Regions from separate parts of the Homo sapiens genome. Here region 1 is linked to region 2. Evidence: fine-mapped expression QTL. A gene starts in region 2. The other region holds a variant in brackets. All regions are shown on one strand. Distances are between the middles of the regions.

Region 1 (2,822 bases), 130 kb before region 2:
ACAACTAGATCTGCAGTAGTCTAGTGGTGGCAGGTGCTAGACAGGGAAGAGAGCAGTTTCTAGGCGTAGATGGAAGAGATAAGGGAGGATGGACATTGTGTGCTGATGATGTGGTCATATTTGATGGAGAATAACCAAGAGACTGTTTCATGCTATTATTCGCAAATTCATTGCCCTAACATAGTCCCCTCCTCTTTCTCTGTTCTGGAGAAAAAATTGACGTCAGTGCTGCCTCCTTTGCATATAGTCAATATTATGAATTTTTATCATTTCAGAGTGGACAGACATCCAGTGCTACTGTGGTAAAATGATATTTCCAAAAAAGCTGTGCCTCTGGTGGTTGGAATTCTGGGAAGAAACATGAGGGTGGTTGGTGTATTTGGGGATATGTGTGTGTGTACGTGTGTATATGTATATTTATATAATATACATGTATATTAAAATGTATACATTTATATGTATTATACATATATAATCTAATATATTTATGTGTACTATACATATGTATATATGTATTATATATAATTATAAATTACACATATGTTATAAATACATACACATATTAATATACATTTAATATACATGTTTTATATATCTATATATATATCTATATATATCTATATATAGATATATATATATATATTTTTTTTTTTTTTCCAGAAGACTAGATGAGATGAAGAGAGCAGTTGTCACATCTGGGTAAAAGTCTCATCATCAGGGCAAAGAACAGGTGGGAATGTATCCAGAGAATCAACATACAATGAGCAAAAGTGAAGCTTTTCCTAGACTTGACCCTCATCAAATCTCCTCTGTCCCCACTCTCTTCTGAAGAAGGAAAGGTAGGCCTGTCTTTTTTTCTTCCTGATTGTAGAACTGACCCAAAACATTAGACCTTCAAAAGTACTCTCATTCTATGCACTTGAACACATATAATTTTATAATGTTTACATCATTTTATTATTGTGGTTCTACGGAATTTTCTGCTTCTTCCTGATTGTAAGATTGTTAATTTTAACCTATTCATTTTACAGAGATTTAAAACCTAGCATTGAATTGTATGACAATGTTTCATAATTTTTTGGTGATCTATATAACAAACCACTTTTTTCACA[G/C]TTTTTTTTTTTTTTTTTTGAGACAGAGTTTTGCTCTTGTTGCCCAGGCTGGAGTGCAGTGGTGCAATCTCAGCTCACTGCAACCTCCGCCTCCCAGGTTCAAGCGATTCTCATGCCTCAGCCTCCCAAGTAGGTGGGATTACAGGGGCTCGCCACCACATCCAGCTAATTTTTGTATTTTTAGTAGAGACAGGGTTTTGCAATTTTGGCCAGGCCAGTCTTGAACTCCTGACCTCACGTGATCCTCTCTTCTCGGCCTCCCAAAGTGCTGGCTGGGATCCCAAAGTGCTGGCTGGGATTACCGGCATGAGCCAAGGCACCCAGCCTATCGTACTTTTTTATTGTTGTACTAACTTAAATTTTTTTTGTCAAATATAATCACTTTTTTATCCTAACATTAGCAGGAACAGGAACATCTCTGGCAAGAGTGGGAACAATACAGAGACAGGAGGAAGTGCCACACTCTTAAATAACCAGATCTCCCAAGAACTCACAGCAAGAATGTATTCATTACCATGGGGATGGTGCGAGGCCCTCCATGAGGCCCCCATGATCCAATCACCTCCCACCAGGCCCCACCTCCAACACTGGGGATTACATTTCAACATGAGATTTGGGCAGGACAAAAATCCCAACTATTTCAAGGATTCTAGTTAATATTGTATTGTCTACTGGGAATTTGCTAAGAAAGATTTTAAATGCACTAACCACCACCCCCCCGACACACGGTAACTATATGATACAGTGGATGTATAATTTACTTGGCTGTAGTAATCACTTTACCATGTAAGTGTGTATCAAAACATCATAGTATATATATCTTAAATATGTACAATAAAAAAGAAAAAAAACAGTCCCACTCTCAGTATAAAAAGTTCTATAAAACAAAACTAAAATTGGAGTGGTCTTAACAGTGGAGTCTGGGAACTTGAAAAATGAGACTTCAGTAAAATCAACTACTATTCCTCTGAAGGCCACAAAACTATTGCACAGGACATTACTACAGCTCACACTTTTTAGCAATCATGAGAGCAAATATTTATTATGTTCCAGACACTAAATCGATGCATTACATTTAGAGACACTTAGTTTTACACAGTGATCTTAATAGTTAGGTACAGTCTTAAATCCCAATTTATATTTCAGGAAAAAGAAACTGAGAAAGTATTCATCATGATTAGAAAACAACAGGCAAGGTTTGAGCTCAAATACTCTGGACATAAAATCTTCACTCTGAATACACATATTGCTCATATTTTCCTCTCCTTGATTCCTTGATGTACCTGGGGTATCCTGAGCAACACACTGACATACCCTCCAAGAACCTTTAGTTGATGTTGGTGGTGGTCATGGGGGTGGTTCCTATGGACTACCTAGGTAGCATGGATGGTGGCTAACAGGCTTTGGGCCTCTTCATATCAGTGATAAAGTGAAACATGGATAAATGGGAAGGCAAGGATGTTATACCCATACTGCTGTGTCTTTAGGAGGGATTAGGTAACTTTCTCTGAAAATATGAAAAAGAGTAAATGAATAAATAAGCATCTCTCATAACTCAAGCCAAATACACCATACATCTCAAGGATGAGTAAAAGTTCTAAAGAAGGGAAACCACAAGGAAGCAATGGTGTGAATGTTGCAGATGAGTCAGTTGCAGGAGATAAGTCAAGACAAAGGGTTGTAGGTGAAGAAATGAGAAAATTCAAGAGC
Region 2 (2,773 bases):
CTTTTTTCATAAATCCAGCTCCCGGAACTCAAGAGTTCTGTGATCTAGAATTGTCAATCTCAGGTTGGGAACACCTGATTCCAGTGCAGAAGCTGCAGGGCAGCTGGTCATTAGAGTAGGATATGAAAGTTCCCTTTCTTATCTCCACCTTCCTGTGAGGTCCCTGGGGAGAAAAGGGGCAAGATCTTGGTCTGGTAATCAATTTTTCATTGTCCTGGATCGATCTCACTTTTGAGTGCAATTGCAAGAGAATAGGCCTGAGTCTTGCTGTAGTAAGTTAGCAACTGGCCTTATAGCATGATGAGGATCTGACATGGATGGTGCTGGGGGTCTAGATATTCTCAATAAAGAATCATTGGTTTGATAGCAGAAGGTCTCCTGGCCAACGGCCTATCATCCCTTTGCTTGTCTTCAACACACTGGGAACATATGGGCTCGAGCTTTTTGCTTGTTCCTTAGCTATCTGTGTGGTGCTCCTCCCTCTCCAGGCAGGTGGATGGAATATATAAAATCCAGACCCTGAAGGCTTCCTAGTAACACAGAATATGCATACAATTTCATATATACATTCGATAAGACATGTACACTCTCACTCATATAAATAATTATTTCCATCTGCATCTAAATAAAAACCAAACACAATTCTCCAAATTTACATGGGACCAAGAATCCAGCTTTTTAGTTGCCTGTATTTGTCCCCTTAAGAATTTTACTACTAACCACCTCCTCTCCCACCTCTTGATTTACAGACGACATTCCCCCTTAATGCTTTGACATAAAGGTGGGCACACAAGAGTGGGTTAGGACATTGAAACAAATCATTCTAAAACTTCTGTTATATTGACATGTAGAAGAGACCAAGTGATATGTGAATAAAAGGCATATTATAAAAAAGAGCTAATTCACATTTAGTTTGGCATGTGCCTATGAAGAGCCTTCCTGGTTAGCCCTACTCCTGCTTCCTAGGACAGAGGAAAATTTTCCCCACCACATGGGAGCACAATTAAATATAGAATCCCAAAATCTAGACTCTATATAAGACCCAAATTTCCAGATCATTAAAAAAATTAATGCGCTCCTTCCTATGGGAGAGACTGCATTCTTATAGGAATGTGGCTTTATCTATGGCTTCAGTAGACCCAACTTTTCATACAAGTCTAACATCCCTATAAGGAACATACACACAGTATCACACGGAAACACACATCCCACATTTAAAAATATGGTTTTTATTTACTTTTTTGTTTTCTTACTAGTTCCATCCAGAGAACTTTGTCCCTGTTTTCTGGAAAATTATTTTATTTTATTGTAGAGCCCTGGACCCCTAAATATGTCCTCCTTCCCCAGCTGGCCCAGGGTGACTGCGAGGATAGAGTTGACATCACAATATCCCTTTTCTGAGGATTCATGCCCCTGGTGGGTGGGGTAGGAGGAGGGGTAGCCCTAGGAGAAGTCATCACCACTTTGTCCACCATGGGTGAATTATGAATCAGTAGCTATGCCAGGCCTCAGCTGGGCCACATCTGGAGAACTGGGGTGAGGGCACAACATCACAAAATATCTGGCCCCAGTCTGGTCACTCATCCCTTTTAGGGCAACAAGGAAACTATCCTGTGGCCTGAGAGCACAATACCTGAGACAAAGGCCAGCAGAAACATTTGTCTGCCCTCACCCTTTCTGCCCCAGCTTCCACCTGCTCCCCATCTGCCCACCCACTAAAGCCCATGTGGCATGCCATCTCTCGAACATCCAGGATGTCCCAGAGTGGATGTCCATCAGGTCTGCTGGCAGACAAAAATATCTCTTCAAGTGCCACTCGAGTGATAGTGAAGACTGCAGGCAACCAGAAAGACTTTATGGTAGCTGATGACATCTCGGTAAGGCAGTTCAAGGAGATGCTATTGGCTCACTTCCAATGCCAGATGGACCAACTAGTGCTGGTCTTCATGGGTTGCCTTCTCAAAGACCATGACACACTGAGCCAGAGGGGCATCATGGATGGCCACACCATCTACTTGGTCATCAAGTCCAAGCAGGGCTCCAGATCTCTAGCCCATTCCTTCCGGGACCTGCCAACGAATGATCCCTGCCACCGGGACAGAAACACCAAAGGAAACAGCAGCAGAGTGCACCAACCAACTGGTATGAATCAAGCTCCAGTGGAACTGGCCCACTTTGTGGGGTCTGATGCACCCAAAGTGCATACCCAAAACTTGGAAGTGAGCCACCCAGAGTGCAAAGCACAGATGCTGGAGAATCCTAGCATCCAGCGGCTTCTGTCCAACATGGAGTTCATGTGGCAGTTCATTTCAGAACATCTAGACACGCAACAATTGATGCAGCAGAACCCAGAAGTTTCCCGCCTTCTTCTTGATAATTCTGAGATCCTATTGCAGACTCTGGAGCTGGCCAGGAACCTTGCTATGATCCAAGAGATAATGCAGATCCAACAACCTTCACAAAACCTTGAGTATCCACTGAACCCACAGCCATATCTGGGCTTAGAGACAATGCCAGGTGGGAATAATGCCCTGGGTCAGAACTATGCTGATATCAATGATCAAATGCTGAACAGCATGCAAGATCCTTTTGGAGGAAACCCTTTCACAGCTCTCCTGGCAGGACAAGTGCTAGAACAAGTCCAGTCTTCACCCCCACCTCCACCACCATCACAGGAACAACAAGACCAGCTCACACAGCATCCTGCAACCCGAGTCATCTATAATAGCTCTGGTGGTTTCTCTTCAAACACCTCAGCCAATGACACCCTTAA

What was found. PIP is the estimated chance that this variant, and not a neighbour inherited with it, causes the effect.
Region 1: its variant is fine-mapped to the expression of UBQLNL in whole blood (TOPMed, PIP 0.96).

Annotation. Positions count from the first base shown.
Region 1 is chr11:5,643,702-5,646,523 of GRCh38, reverse strand. It overlaps TRIM6-TRIM34 (TRIM6-TRIM34 readthrough), which reads right to left. Exons shown (of 14, transcript NM_001003819.4): 14 at 2,126-2,822. The coding sequence ends at 2,815. It overlaps TRIM34 (tripartite motif containing 34), which reads right to left. Exons shown (of 8, transcript NM_021616.6): 8 at 2,126-2,822. The coding sequence ends at 2,815. It also overlaps a transcript of TRIM5 not described here. Among named protein-coding and RNA genes, the nearest start is that of TRIM34, 20 kb to the right of the region's middle. The variant G/C (reference allele first, on the strand shown) is at 1,113.
Region 2 is chr11:5,515,393-5,518,165 of GRCh38, reverse strand. It overlaps UBQLNL (ubiquilin like), which reads left to right and starts at 1,467. Exons shown (of 1, transcript NM_145053.5): 1 at 1,467-2,773. The coding sequence starts at 1,725.